2 separate regions of the Homo sapiens genome follow, and region 1 is linked to region 2. Evidence: fine-mapped expression QTL. Tissue or cell type: gastroesophageal junction. Region 2 holds a variant in brackets; the other region holds the start of a gene. All regions are shown on one strand. Distances are between the middles of the regions.

The links. PIP is the estimated chance that this variant, and not a neighbour inherited with it, causes the effect.
Region 1: SRP72 starts here. The variant in region 2 is fine-mapped to the expression of SRP72 in gastroesophageal junction (GTEx, PIP 0.96). The same link has a PIP of 0.9 or more in spinal cord.

Annotation. Positions count from the first base shown.
Region 1 is chr4:56,462,714-56,470,812 of GRCh38, forward strand. It overlaps SRP72 (signal recognition particle 72), which reads left to right and starts at 4,904. Exons shown (of 19, transcript NM_006947.4): 1 at 4,904-5,031; 2 at 6,940-7,060. The coding sequence starts at 4,923. PAICS (phosphoribosylaminoimidazole carboxylase and phosphoribosylaminoimidazolesuccinocarboxamide synthase) reads left to right here. Exons shown (of 9, transcript NM_001079524.2): 9 at 1-1,865. LOC124900706 (a long non-coding RNA gene) reads right to left here and starts at 4,845. Exons shown (of 2, transcript XR_007058126.1): 1 at 4,379-4,845; 2 at 1-280. RefSeq lists an enhancer at 4,749-4,958.
Region 2 is chr4:57,241,406-57,249,512 of GRCh38, forward strand. No RefSeq gene overlaps it. Among named protein-coding and RNA genes, the nearest start is that of IGFBP7, 140 kb to the left of the region's middle. The variant A/G (reference allele first, on the strand shown) is at 4,063.

The DNA.
Region 1 (8,099 bases), 780 kb before region 2:
GAATTCTCTGGGCATGGTAGCTCATGCCTGTAATCCCAGCACTTTGGGTGGCCGAGGCAGGTGGATCACCTGAGATCAGGAGTTCGAGACCAGCCTGACCAACATGGAGAAACCCAGTCTCTAATAAAAATACAAAACTAGCCGGGCATGGTGGCACATTCCTGTAATCCCAGCGACTCAGGAGGCTGAGGCAGGAGAATCGCTTGAACCTGGGAAGCGGAGGTTGTGGTGAGCCGAGGTTGCGCCATTGTACTCCAGCCTGGGCAACAAGAGCAAAACTCTGTTTCAAAAAAAAAGAAAGAAAGAAAATTACCTGGAATTCAATATTGCCATCGGCTGATTTAATTTCTAATATGAAGAAAGGGGCAGTGTGATGTGCCACGGAGCATCCACAACCTGCCATTTCAGCCCAGCCAACCTTAGAAAGCCATTGAAAAGAGTTGTTTTTAATGGTGTTTTTACATCCAGCTTCCCACACCTCAAATACTTGGGGTGGAATTGTTAATCTCACATTGCAGTACAATGAAAATAGTGGAATGGAAATCAAGTTATAAAATGGAGCTAAATATTTCTTCTGCTTGCCTCTGAGTTGATAAGATACCATAAGATACTGTACATGAGGCTGGGCGCGGTGGCTCACGTCTTATTTCTTCTGCTTGCCTCTGAGTTGACAAGATACCATAAGATACTGTACATGAGGCTGGGTGCAGTGGCTCACGCCTGTAATCCCAGCACTTTGGGAGGGTGAGGTGGGCAGATCACCTGAGGTCGGGAGTTCAAGACCAGCCTGACTGACATGGAGAAACCCCCTCTTTACTAAAAATACAAAATTAGCCAGGCATGGTGGTGCATGCCTATAATTCCAACTACTCGGGAGGCTGAGGCAGGAGAATCGCTTGAACCTGGAAGGCAGAGGTTGTGGTGAGCTGAGATCGAACCATTGCACTCCAGCCTGGGCAACAAGAGCGAAAATCTGTCGCCAAAAAAAAAAAAAAAAAGATACTGTACATGGAAGCTTCTCAGGCTAAATCCATTAATATAAAAATACATTGTGGATACTGATGAGATGGCTAATTCTGTCAACTTGACTAGGCTACGGGATGCCTTGATAGCTGGTCAAACAACATTTCTAGGTACATCTGTGATGGTGTTTCTGGAAGAGACTAGCACTTGAATCAGTAGACTTGAGTAAAGAAGACTGCCTTCACCCATGTGGGTGAGCGTCATCTAATCCATTGAGGGCCTGAATAGAACAAAAAAGGGGAAGAAGGGTGAACTGCTGGGACATCCATTTCGTGCCCCCAGATGTTGGTGCTCCTGGTCCTCAGGCCTTCAGACTAGGACTTAACGTTATTGCCTCCCCTGATTCTCAAGCCCTCGGGTTTGGAACTACACTGGCTTTCCTGGGCCTTCAGCCTGCAGAAGGCAGACTGTGGGACTTCACCTCCATTTTGCAGAGCCAATTTCTCATAATCTGTACATATCCTATTGGTTCTGTATTTTTTAGAGAACAAATACAGCCTATTATGTATATATAAGACCCTGGGAATGCAAAGATGAACAAAATTAACCTTCTGCTCTCAATGAATCTTGGAAGTCTCCAGAGGCAGACAATTTCAAAACACCGTATATAGTCTTAATATGGAATTAACAATAGGGTATTGTGAATACACAAAAGTAGGAAGGACTCTGATCTCTAGAAAACAATTGTATACTGTGAATGAAAAAGACTAATTCTCCACAGTCTATACTCAATCTCTCTTACCTTTCCATAATTTTCTTCAGCAAACTTATTACCACCAAACATAGTACATGTTTATTTATTACCCATCTCTCCCAACTAGAAAATAAATGTATTACACTGGGCTGTCTTCTTTGTTGTCAGCTGTATCACAGCAACTGGTGTAATACACGGCACTGGCATATACAAGACAAACACTTGTCAGATGAATAAAAATGCAAATTCCAGGAGGTAGGGGGACACATAACTACATGGAAGTTAGAGGTGAATAGCATGCAAGGGGGCTAGGAAATAAGTATAGAGACCTATGTGAGTTGGGGAGGTGGCAAGCAGAGGCCAGATCACAAAAGCTCTTACTGCTCTTCTTTGGAGTTCGGATTTTATCGTGAGGGTAGGAAAGTGGCATCAGATACATGCTTTAAGAGATCAGTCTGGTTTTTTTCCCACCATGTGAAAACAGAAGATGCCATCTATGAATCAGAGTGGCCCCTCACCAGACAATCTTTCCATCCTTCACAATGTGAGATGTAAATTTGTTATTTAAAAAAAAAAAAACAAAACACCACTATGGTTTGGAAGATTCCTGTTTCAAAAATGGCAGGTTAAGCCCCATATTTATAGGCTGTTTGCCACAAAACTCCATTAAAATGACATAAGAAATAGAAACAAGTCCACAGCAGCAGAATTCTGAGCATTTCTAAAAGCTACAAAGTATATAGGATTAGAATGATATAGAAACGAAAATTGCCAATTCTTATATAAAGTCAATGTTCTAAAAAGTACTACTAGGACAGTGGCTCTTAACTTTTGGGAGGGGATGGTGGATATAAACACCTTTGGAGAATACAGTGGAATCTACATTTTCTCAGAATAACAAAATACAACAAAATTTTGGGTATACCCAATTTTCTCACACAACATTTTGGGTATACCATGTCATCTGGAGCCCCCACCCCCTGAAATCTAAACATAACTGGCTTGAAACCTGTGACAATTCTAGTCAGTAAAAGTCTAAAGCTCTTCTCATGATTTTTACTAATTCACAAGAATTACACCCTCCAGCACCTAGAGTTCAAGCCACCTTTCATGCTCTTTGCATTGTATATACTGGAAGGACCAGACAAAAATATGGCAGGGCACCATATGCCATATCAGGAGCTGGGCAGTTTCTGCCCTCAAGGAACTCAAGATTAGGCAAGGAATGTGAAACAAAAAATGCCAACTATGTGCCAGGCAGTATGCTAGATCCTAGGGATACTGCAGTGAGCAAGGTAAATATGGTTCCTTGGCCTCAGAACTATAGTCCATACAGAGTGAGATAACCCTTAATTATCAGTGCTCAGAAGTGGAGTCCTATAGGGAGTCTCCCAACCTTTTTGGCACCAGGGACCGGTTTCAGGGAAGACAATCTTTCCACAGGAGTTGGACAGCTGGTTTCAGTATGATTCAAGCTCATTACATTTCCCATTAGATTCTCTTAAGGAGTGAGCAACCTAGATCCTTCACATTCCCAGTTCACAATAGGGTTTGAGCTGTGAGAAGCTAATATCACAGCTGATCTGACAGGAGCTCAGGCGGTACTGCTCACTGGCCCACCGATCACCTACTGCTGTGCCGCCCGGTTCCTAACAGGCTGCAGACCAGTACAAGGGTTGGGGACCCCTGTTCTAAGAGGATGCAACCAGAAGGCTGCCCAGTCTGCAAGATCAAATGTTTCCTCAAAGTAACTTTCAACGTATAACCAGAAAGACTGAAAGACAAAAAGTAGTTAGCAAGGCCGGGCACGGTGGCTTACGCCTGTAATCCCTGTACTTTGGGAGGCTGAGAGAGGGCGGATCACTTGAGGTCAGGAGTTTGAGACCAGCTTGGCCAACACAGTGAAACCCCATCTCTACTAAAAATTCAAAAATTAACCGGGCGTGGTGGCTCATGCTACTTGGGAGGCTGAGGCAAAAGAATCGCTTTAACCCAGGAGGTGGAGATTGCAGTGAGGTTCATCCTGGGTCACAGAGCTAGACTACGTCTCAAAAAAAAAAAAAAAAAAAAAAAAAAAAAGCTAGGTTCCTGAGGGACACAGGAAGTAGTAGAAGTTGTAAAGGTCATGACGAGATATGAGTCTGAAGAGCAGGCCATTCAATGAAATACAACATTCACATCAAGTGAATCACTCACATCGTCTTGGTGTGGTGGCTCATGCCTGTAATCCCAGCACTTGGGGAGGCTGTGGTGGGAGGATTGCTTGAGCCCAGGAGTTCCAGACCAGCTTGGGCAACACGGCAAGATCCCCGTCTCAAAAAAAAAAAAAAATCACTCACATCAAGTGTACCCAACAGATATCCATTCCCTTCGTACATCTGAACACATCTTGATATTAACGGTCGCAAGCAAACCCTAATATTTTATATCTCTAGAACAAATATAGTATCCCCATTTCACAATCGGGAAAACAGACTCCCAGAAGCTAAGTAACTTGTTTATTGTCAGACATCTAGTGAGTCGCAGAGCCAGGGAACTGACCACGGGCATTTTCACCCCATTACCCTTCCAGCTTATTGCCGACTGCTCCCGAAGGGAGCGAAAAGGACAGGCAAAGGGTTTCACCAAACCCTTTGTAATGGGAGATTCTTGCCTTCTTACCTTTCCTCACGTTTGCTTCTCTGCCAGAATGTCTTCCCGCACTTTCCCCAGAACCCAAGTTCTCCTAATCATCTTTCAAGATCCCTTTCCCTCAACCACAGATGAGCCGTGCCTATTTCTCCTTCAAATGACTCCCTATGGCTTCTAGTTGGTAGTCTTTTATTTACCACCTCATAGTCCTTTTATTTATATCCCATAAATGATCGTCCGGCCCCGCACCGTGGGACCAGGACGCTGCCTCGACCATGGCGGTCTCCTGGAAACAGGCTGCTTTGAGCCGAAACTGGTGACCGTTTCCCAACCCCGTCCAGGAGTCCGACGCCTCTTTTCTCCAGGCCAACTTCAAGTGAGGTGTATCAACTCTATCCGCACAAATTTCTTGCCACGAGAGCAGAAGATTATGATCTCTGATGCTGCCTTAGGGCTGAAGACACTCCCAACTCGGCGACGCTTAGCAATCATCGACTTCCTCCTCCTCTTGGCTGCCTCGGAGATCCTGTTCCGGGGCAGAGGTCTCCCCGCCCCGCCCCTCGTCTCCTCCAAGATGGCGAGCGGCGGCAGCGGGGGGGTGTCAGTACCTGCGCTGTGGAGTGAAGTGAACCGGTATGGCCAGAACGGCGACTTCACGCGCGCTCTCAAGACCGTCAATAAGAGTAAGTGTCGGGGTGGGCACTGGGGCGGGCCCAGGCCGGCTGGAGGATGCGGCCTGTTTCCGGCGCGCGAGACCACCTCGCGCGGGAGGCACGGGAAGGGGAGACCCCCGAAACCCCCCCGTCTATTGTCCGCCCGGCTCGGGCCCTAGCGCCCGGAAGACGCAGGTCTCACTCCTCGGCTTCACCAGGCCAGCCTGGGGTCCCTGGTTGCTTACAGCCACGTGTACTTCTCTTTTTACCCTCCGCGGGAAGCGAGGGAAGGTTTTAAAGAGACCGCAGCTCCCGGAGTCCATTTCAAACTGTTTTCTTATTTGACTCCTTTGCTGCTTTATTTCACAAATATTCCAAAGTGCCTCCTTTTCTTCTTCGTCTTGAGCGCAGTGATCAGGACTCTATTGCTGAGGGAGCTTGTTCTCTTTGGCCGCTAAAGGGGGAGGAACCTGCTTGGGACACGTAGTTTAGAGGCTGGTGCTAACCAGGTGGAAGCTGTACGGGTTCTACGGGGCGAGAGGAAAGGGCTGGATCTGGATGTCAGGCCTGTCATTCCCATAGATGAGATCTCTTCAGTGTTATTAAGTTAGGAAATATGTGTGTGGAAGCACCAACACTTGAAATAATGTCGGAAGAAAAGTTTGGCCTGTTTTTTTGCCCTGTAAGGGATGATTTCGGTTTTTACCGCCTTTGGTGTGAGGTTTAATTCATCATATTCTTTTGTTCCTTACTACATACCTGGAATATGGCCATGCTGCTTAATGTTCTCGGTGGTGCGCAGTTCTTCTCTACTGAAGATACAGCCTGTGCATGTTAGATTTGGAAATGTAATTACCAAGGCAGGGCTTAGCTGTTCAGAGTAGCAGTAACCTAAAAGGTGTGTCAGTAACATGCAAAGCTATCTAAGTAATTTTCAACACTCTAGTACTGGGTTAACGTGAAAAGTAGTGATTGTGCCCACAGTGCACTTTTGGTGATTTCAGACATTGAGGAAAATAGCTACGAATTAGAATTATTTGATCCCTAAATTTGTTTGAATTAACTCTAGCCTTCCAACCAGTACTGTATACTTAGTATAGTATTTTGCAGGAATTCTTTAATCAGCAAAGATTGTCAACTTGTTTACCAGTATGTTTTCTTAATTGGTAGAAATTCTTGTGATTCTTTGAGAATTGGACTTCTGTAGTTGCACAGGAGCAAGAGTAACTATGATCCTGGTCATTTTAACACCGAACAGTTGTTAGCGTTGAAACTTGCCACCTGAGTTCTTCCTTATACTTTGGTCATCTTAGTTGAAAAGGGGAAATTTTAATGATTTTTGGAAACGTTGCCAGCAAGATAAATTGCCTTTGTATTATACTTTATAAGATTTTTCCAAAATATTCATTTCATATTGTCAGTAACCTTATTAAATAGGTAATGCTTTTCTAATCATTTTGTAGCTAAGAAAACTGAGATTTGGCTGTTAAGTGATATGCCCAATACCTCAAAGCATTTAGTGGCAAGCTTGCACCAAACCTAGGTCATTTGCTTCCAAATTCTACCTGAACTTTTTCCCTGTGAAGTAATGAACTATGTAGAATGTAGCATGCATTTCAAGATGAAATATCTGGAGAAATTGCTTCTTTCTTCTTTATTTCACTGCACTTTTTTGGTACATGTATATTGGGAATCTTTATCTCATTGAAAATTTAATCTATAACTCTCCTTATTGTCACTTCTTAAGTTAAAAGCAAAGATTAGTTGTTTTCTGGGTTTGTTTTGTTTTGTTGCTGTTTCTTCCAGTTGTTCTGACCAATTATTTCTGTTGCAATAAAAGTAGAAATTTAGCTTTCGGAGAGACAGGGTGGGAAAATTTAGTAAAAATGTGAAAAGGAAATGGATTTAAAAATGACTTTTCCTAAAATTGTTCTCTAGTACTACAGATCAACAAAGATGACGTAACTGCCCTGCATTGTAAAGTGGTATGCCTTATCCAGAATGGAAGTTTCAAGGAAGCTTTGAATGTCATCAATACTCACACCAAAGTGTTAGCCAAGTAAGTGATTCAGTTAGTTGCTTGTACAGTTATTAGAAACACTTACTATAGCTATAATCTCTTCCATGTTTTTTCCCAACTATTTGCTGATTTTTTTTAACGTTTTTTTCCTTCCTTTTTTTCCCCCCTTTTGCTTGTCAATAATGTTTCTGAACTGGAAGGAATACTAGTAACTTCTGTTTTTTTCAGCCTTAGAGAGTTTTTTTTTTTTTTTTTAACCACTGTGTTTCCTTTGAACCGCTAAGGAGGTGAACCATAGAGAGTTGTGGGGCATAATTATGAGTCGTTGGAGGATGTAGCAAGAATAACTCAGTCGAAGTTTCTTTACTGTTATACCTAGGCTCCAAAAAAATATGTATTGAAATTAAGTTTGAAGCATATTAATGGGATACTGGTTTATAAGGTGCAGAACAATATATATTATACTTCCTTTTACAAGAGGAGGAGGATATAAAAATTTATATATGCATTTGCCTGTATTTGCAAAACAAACAGTATAAAGAGAAACAATGAATAGTCATTTGTGGGAGGCCTAAGAGGGCGGATCACGAGGTCAGGGGTTTGAGACCAGACCGAGCAATATGGTGAAACCCCATGTCTACTGAAGATACAAAAAATTAGCTGGGTATGGTGGTGTGCACCTGTATTCCCAGTTACTTGGGAGGCTGAGGCAGGAGAATCACTTGAACCCAGGAGGCAGAGGCTGCAGTGAGCTGAGATCGTGCCATTGCACTCCAGCCTGGGTGACGGGGAGACTCCGTCTCAAAAAAAAAAAAAAGTCATTTGTAGGAGGTAATAGGAACAGGTTAGATTTGGGTAGCAGTGGGAATAAAGCCTCTTAGTGTATCTCTTTTTCTTTTTATATTTGAGGCGTATAAATGTGTTAGAGATTAAAAATTAATTGTAAACTTTATTAAAAATAAAAGGGAAATAGAGGCAATGCTGCTTTTCTCCTATTAAATATGTTTGCTAAAATTCAGTCTCTTGATTTTGGGCTATTTTGTGAGAAAAGAGACATTTTCAAAAACATTTTGTCAAT
Region 2 (8,107 bases):
GCTTAAAAGACTCACATTAGAGATGAAAAACCAAACAATCCCTGTCCCCCTCAAACCAAAAGCTACTGGTGCTCAATTCACTAGGCAGAGAAGAATGGAGAAACTATGACCCTGGTTTCTTAAGCATTTGCTGACCTCCCCTAGGTTCAGTTTAAAGAGTCTTAGCCTCTTTGTGGTGATTCTCAGAACTATGATATTTCAGGGTTGGGAGGCACTTGGGTTAATATCTAGTCCAATCAAATACCTAGGGCTTGAATTTTTTCTTTTGTATCTTTACCAAAAGATCACAGCTTTGAATACATCTTGAATGCTTTCAGTCTTGAATACATCCAGAGGTGGGGAGCTCACTACCTTATGAGATATCTCATTTCATTTATGGTCAACTCTGTAGGAAATTTTTTACGTTGAACAAAAATCAATTCAAATGCTTTTACTGAGTGCATACTATGCTTCAGGTATTAAGTTCTGAGGATCTAACAAGTGAGCAAAATAGAAAGCAATCTCTGTGCTTTTGGAGTTTGCTTCCTACAGAAGAGAGACAGAATAAAGGCAAGTAAAATGAAGAGCACGACTGGGACAAGTAAGAAAGAAAGAGAATGCCAGGGGCGGACACTTGCAGTCTTAACTAGTGTGGTTAGGAAAGGCCTCATGGACAACTGACTTTCAAGTGGAGTCCTGAAAGAGCCATGTGAGTATCAAGGGGAAGAGCATTCCAGCAGCAGAAACAGTAAGCGCAAAGGGCCTGAGGCAGGTTTATGGAGCAGTGAAGAGGCCAGTGTGATTGGAATGGGGAAGGCAAAGGGGAGGATGGTGAGATATGAGGTTAGAAAGGGAATGGGAGGCAGACCATGGGAGCCAGACCCATGGGGCCTTGGGAGTCTTTGTAAGGATACCGTATTTTACTCTAAACATGATAAGGAGTCATTGGAGGGTCCTAGTACGATTTGACTTAAGTTATAGAAAATTTGCTCTGCAAATAGACTGTATGGGAAAGTAAGTGGGCTTAGGGAGAGCAGTTAGAGACTGCTGCGGAAGTTCGGGCCAGAGACAATGGCATCTTGGTGTGCAAAGTGTGTGGGCTCAGGATGTATTTTGAATAGTGCTCTTTGAGTTTCACCTGCGGATCCTAGCATTATCTCCTGGGGCTTAACACATGTGGTCCTCATGCATATATTCGGACCAAGGTAAAAATAAGGCAAATGCCACTTATTTCTTCCTTTTGACTCTTCCCAGCCCTCTTACTTCTTCCTCATAAGCAACCATCCTAAAGCATATGATGTGTATTTTTCTATTTGTATGAGTTCTTGTAAAACATGTACTTTTTTGTCACAGATTTTTTTTTTTTTTGAGATGGAGTCTCCCTCTGTTGCTCAGGCTGGAGTGCAGTGGTGCGATCTCAGCTCACTGCAAGCTCCGCCTCCCGGGTTCAAATGATTGTCCTACCTCAATCTCCCAAGTAGCTGGGGCTACAGGCACGTGTCACCATGCTTGGCTAATTTTTGTATTTTTAGTAAAGACAGGGTTTCACCATGTTGGCCAGGCTGGTTTCAAACTCTTGACCTCAGGTGATCCACCTGCCACAGCCTCCCAAAGTGCTGGGATTACAGGCCTGAAGCACCACGCCCGGCCTGTCATAGATTTAAAAAATTTTTAAAACTTAAATACCTGACTTTGTGCTATAGATCACCTTCTGTTTCTTTCTGTATTTTAAAAATCAATCTGCATTGCTGAATGTACTGAGTCTGCTGCTTCTGGCTGAAGCGACTTCTTCAAATGAGACAGCTGAGCTGTGAAAAACTCTGTTAGCACCTGTTTCCCTGGAGCCTTCTTCTTTCCAGTCCAAGCCTGTTCACTTCTTCCACTGTTCCCACATAACATGGCTTTGAGCCTTCTCTTGGCCTGGCCACTCTCTTTTGAGCCTTCCACGGCCTATTTTGGCTCATAGTCTTGGGCTTCTGAGAACAGAATCTATGCCTGAAAACCACTTGCCATTTTTCAGGCCTGTAAACAAGGTTCAGTAGCTGAGAAATGGGTGTGGGGACTTGGACTAAGAAAATAGAAGCTACAGGACAAAGAGAGCCCCTAGACTCCACATGTACCCAGAGCAGACTTTGCTTCAATTTTTTTGGGCAGTATAGAGTAGTGGTTAAGAATTTTGGCTCTTAGATTAGATAAATTTAGGCTTGTCTACTCATTCTCCTTCCTACTACACTCTGTGTTACTTTGGGTAAATCACTCAACTTCTCTGAGCTGCATTTTCTTCTTCTGTAAAATTGTGATAATCAGAAATAATTTTGTGAGGCTGTTATTAGATGCAATACTGTATGCAAACTTCTTGGCGCAGAGCCTGATACAGGGTGGGCCCTTGGTAAATATTGGCTGTAATTTTTAAATATAAATTCATACAAACCCAGATTGTCATGAAAATGAAATATGGAGCATTCATTTGCATCACAAAAGATATTAAAAGATTCTCTTTAATAACAATTTCTCTAGTGTATTTCTATAATTTAAATGACCCAAACTGGGTTTTGATGCTGCTTTTCAACAGTATAGATTGTATAGAGCTTGATTTACCTGTATTATGACAGTGAGGGAGATGCCCCACATGACCGTGAGAGATATTTTGAGATTTCCTGTCTATACACAGACATAGTGGTATTATATGTGTTCCCTCTGCCCCCAACCCTTGTCTCTGCCCTGTCTCCTCTCTCAGACTTTTCACAATGGTAATCCCAGCAGTGGGTTATACTTTTTAAGAAATCTTGAGGCTAACACTATATTCCAAGAAGTGGTGCATTCTGTTTTTTCCAGTAAAAACCTACAGTAAATGAAAATATAGAAGTAGAGGACTTGAAGAGACCAGAAGAGTTTGGTGTCATTGAATCCACAGGATTGGAAGGGAACTCAGTGGTCATCAAATCCTCCCTTCTCTTTCTGTAGATGAGGACACTAAGGCTTATGGTGGTGGAGAGACTTGGCTAAGGTCGCCCAGCTTATAAACAGCACAGCAGGAATGCAGACTTCCTGTCCAGCATTCTTTCTTCAACTCATGGTTCCTGGTAAGAATTGGATTTTCATCACCCATTTTTATTCAAGGAATGGAATTTGCACTTTCCCTTGGCATTCTATCCTAGTAAGAAAGTTTTTACTTCAACTTATCCCAATTCCCCCCCTTTTTTTTTTAGAAAGAGTCTCACTCTGTCACAAGGCTGGATTGCAGTTGCATGATCTCGGCTCACTGCAACCTCCACCTCCTGGGTTCAAGTGATTCTCCTGCCTCAGCCTCCCAGGTAGCTGGGACTACAGGTGCCTGCCACCACGCCCAGCTAATTTTTGTATTTTTGTAGAGACGGGGTTTCACCATGCTGGCCAGGATGGTCTCGATCTCTTGATCTTGTGATCTGCCTGCCTCAGCCTCCCAAAGTGCTGGAATTACAGGTGTGAGCCACCGCGCATGGCCCCAATTCCCTCTTTGAACAATTTAAATACCCAAACTCAGCCTGCCATAGAACTATCATAGATCTATGTCATTCTGGATATGGCCCAGAGAAAGGGAACACAGTGCAGGCTACACGCACACAGTCTGTTTTTACCTCCTTTTGCCCCCAACTTGAACTTCTTAAAGGCTGCTCCTCACTTCACTCCTTCCCCTCTATTTAATGTCTCTGCCACTAGAATGTGAGCACCAGGAGAGCCAGGTCTTCATCTGTTTTATTCTCTGGTGTATAAACAGAGCCTGGCATAAAACAAGAGCTAAGTGGATGCTTGCTGAAGGACTAATACACTTATTGAGTGCCTGCAATGTTCCAGGCACTCTTCTTGGCACACTGGGCACACATCCTCCCTTAGTACTAGGAATACGAAGAGGAGAGAAAAAAATATCTGTCTCTGATAGAGAAGCAAGGTTTAAGTTCACCCTGCCTCTCTCTGGCAGACTCAGAGGAAATCTTTTGACCAAAAAACAAGTAGCTTCTCTCCCTAACCCTCACATCATAATAGCATGTCATCATGCCTCACCATGCTACCACAGGCCACACACATGTGGATGTGTGTACATAT[A/G]CACATACACACAAGAGTCAGTTTTAAGTGACTGAAGTAGCAACTAAATTTCCATCTGTTTCCCTAATGTATATTTCTTACAGCCTTGCATGGTACAGGTACCTAAAATTCACACTATCAGAATGATTCTCTGGGTTAAGGAACATCTATAATAGTCCCATTTTGTTTGTTTATTACAAATAATTTCAACTTTTATTTTAGTTTCAGGAGGTGCATGTGCAGGTTTTTTACATGGGAATATTGTGTGATGCTGGGTTTTGGGGTATGATTGATCCTGTCACTCAGGTAATGAGCATAGTACCCAATAGTTACAACCCTTGCTCCCACTTTCTCTCCCTTCTAGTAGTCCCCAGTGCCTATTTTTGCCATCTTGATGTCCACGAGTACCCAATGTTTAGCCCTCACTTAGTGAGAACATATGGTATTTGGTTTTCTGTTCCTGCATTAATTTGCTTAGGACAATGGCCTCTAGCTGCATCCATCTTGCTGCAAAGTACATGATTTTGTTCTTTTTTATGGCTGCATAGTATTCCACGGTGTTTATAAACCCTATTTTCTTTATCCAATCCACTTCCAGTGGGCACTTTGATTCCATGTCTTTGCTATTGTGAATAGTGCTGTGATAAACATACAAGTGCATGTCTTTTTTTTGTAGAACAATTTATTTTCCTCTGTAGACCCACTTTAAATTATAAAGATTTTATCCAGAGACTCCAAAGGTTCTTTATTAGCAACACTGATATGTTCACATGAATTAATTTTTCGGGTCAATGATAGAAATGGACAGAACAGAGGGCATCCAAGAGCTTCCTTAAGAGGAAGTCAAACTGTCACCGTTTGCTGATGATATGAGTGTATACCTAGAAAACCCTGAAGACTCATCCAAAAAGCTCTTAGAACTGGTAAATGAATTCAGCAAAGTTTCAGGATACAAAATTAGTACAGACAAATCAGTAGCTCTGCTATACACCGATAGTGACCAAGCTGAGAATCAAATCAAGAATTTAACCCCTTTTACAATAGCTGCGAAACAAAACAAAACAAAAAACAACTTAGGAATATACCTAACCAAGGACGTGAAAGACCTCTGCAAGGAAAACTGCAAAACAATGCTAAAAGAAATCATAGATGACACTAACAAATGGAAACACATTCCATGCTCATGGCTGGGTAGAATCAATATTGTGAAAATGACATACTCCCAAAAACAATGCACAAATTCAATGCAATTCCCATAAAAATAACTTCACCATTCTTTACAGAACTAAAAAAAAATCCTAAAATTCATATGGAACCCAAAAAGAGCCCACATAATCAAAGCAAGACTAAGCAAAAAGAATAAATCTGGAGGCATCACATTACACAACTTCAAACTATACTATAAGGTCATAGTCACCAAAACTACATGGTACTAGTATAAAAATAGGCACATTTTATAGAATAGAATAGAGTCTGTTCTATAAAACAGAATAGAGAACAGAATAGAGAACACAGAAATAAAGCCAAATATTTACAGCCAATTGATCTTTGACAAAACAAACAAAAACATAAAGTGGAGAGGGGAAAGGACACTGTATTCAACAAATGGTTCTGGGATAATTGGCTAGCCACATGTAGAAGAATGAAACTGGATCCTCATCTCTCACCTTTTACAAAAATCAACTTGAGGTGGATCCAACACTTAAATATAAGACCAGAAACCATAAAGATTCTAGAAGATAACATCAGAAAAACCCTTATAGACATTGGCTTAGGCAAAGACTTCATGACGAAGAACCCAAAAGCAAATGCAACAAAAGCAAATATAAATAGATGGGACTTAAACCAAAAAGCTTCTGCACAGCAAAAAAATAATCAGCAGAGTTAACAGACAACCTACAGAGAAAATCTTCACAATCTATACCTCTGACAAAGGACTAATATCCAGAATCTACAAAAAACTCAAATAAATCAGCAAGAAAAAACAAATGATCCCAGCAAGAGGTGGGCAGATCGCGAGGTCAAGAGATCGAGACCATCCTAGCCAACATGGTGAAACCTTGTCTCTAGTAAAAATACAAAAATTAGCTGAGTGTGGTGGCACACGCCTGTAATCCCAGCTACTCCGGAGGCTGAGGCAGGAGAATTGCTAGAACTCAGGAGGTGGAGGTTGCAGTGAGCCAAGATCGTGCCACTGCACTCCAGCCCGGTGACAGAGTGAGACTCTGTTTCAAAAAAAAAAAAAAAAAAAAAAAAAAAAAGGTGGGCTAAGGACATGAATAGACAGTTCTCAAAAGAAGATATATAAATGGCCAACAAGCATATGGAAAAATGCTCAACATCACAAACTATCAGGAAAATGCAAATCAAAACCACAATGCAATATCACCTCAGTACTGCAAGAATGGCCATAATTTAAAAATCAAAAAATAATATATTCAGTGAAAAGGGAACACTTTTACACTGCTGGTGGGAATGTAAAATGGGGAAACAGAGGCTTAACAAAACAAAGACTAGGGAAAGTTAAATTATTTCCCTGGTACAGCTACTAGGGAAAACAGTGTGGAGATTCCTTAAAGAACTAAAAGTAGATCTACAGTTTGATCCAGCAATCCCACTACTAGGTATCTACCCAGAGGAAAAGAAGTCATTACACAAAAAAGATACTTGCACACGCGTGTTTACAGCAGCACAATTTGCAATTGCAAAAATGTGGAACCAGCTCAAATGCCCATCAATCAATGAGTGGATGAAGAAAATGTGATATATATATCATGTTTTATATATATATATAAAACATGGAATACTACTCAGCCATAAAGAGGGATGAAATAATGGCATTTGCAGCAACCTGGATGGAATTGGAGACTATTATTCTAAGTGAAGTAACTCAAGAATGGAAAACCAAGTATCATATGTTCTCACTCATATGTGGGAGTTAAGCTATGAGGACGCAAAGGCATAAGAACGATACACTGAACTTTGGGGAATTGGGGGAAATGGTGGGAGGTGGCAAGGGATAAAAGTCTACACATTGGGTACAGTGTACACTGCTGGGGTGATAGGTGCACCAAAATCTCAGAAATCACCGCTAAAGAAGCAACGCATAGACCGGTTACTTTGTGTATCACTGATGTAGAAGTCAGGCCACTGTCTGGGTAGGTAGGTCCTAGTGAGGCATTTGTGAGAAGATCCCTGGGCTTATAGGGGCCACAAGAAGGCTGTTCCTTAGAGGTGGGCAGGAAGGACAGAGGAGATCAATTTTGCTTACTTCACTTCATAGCTTTGCCTAAGGACTAGGCTTGACTTAAATGGAATGAATTTTTTTCTAAAAAAATTTGCTTCAGCATTTTGCCAAATGCTTGCTATAGGAGACACTCCACATATGTTGTTGTTCATCAGTGTGGAGCATTGAAAATAATCCGGAGTCGAACAGAAAAGAGTTCAAATCCACCGTTCTCTACTTTTAGCTGGGTGACATTGGGCAAGTTACTTAACTTTTCTGTTCCTTCATTTATAAAAACTTGAATGATAGAAGCCACCATATATGTTTTATTATATCAATTAAGTGCAGTAGCATCCCTAAAAGTAGATTTCCAGGCACTTGAGTGCTTTTTTGAGTAAACAGATTGAGTGATATCTTCCAGCATTATCTGATATACTCTTCTCCATGATTCTGTGAGGTGGCAACTATATGAGGCCCATTTTGTGAATGGGGAAACAGAGGCTTAACAAAGCAAAGACTAGGGAAAGTTAAATGATTTGCCTAAAGTTGGAGCCAGAGCAAAGATGACTCATAGATCAAAAGAACTGCTTGAAAGTAGCACCCACGATTTTCCTGCAGGCATTTTTGTTCTATTTGATACTAATGAGTTGGCTGTGTGGGCAGTGAGTTGATAAAGGAACATGAACTGAATCATTAAGCCTCCATTTTATTGTCTCCACTGTACAGATTTCACAACTGACTTGGGTGAGGAAATTCCACCAAAAACTTTAATATGGAAAAAAAGAGAAGGAAAAAAAAGGCAAGGTATCTCTAAATAGCTCTGCAAAGGTCAATGGGATT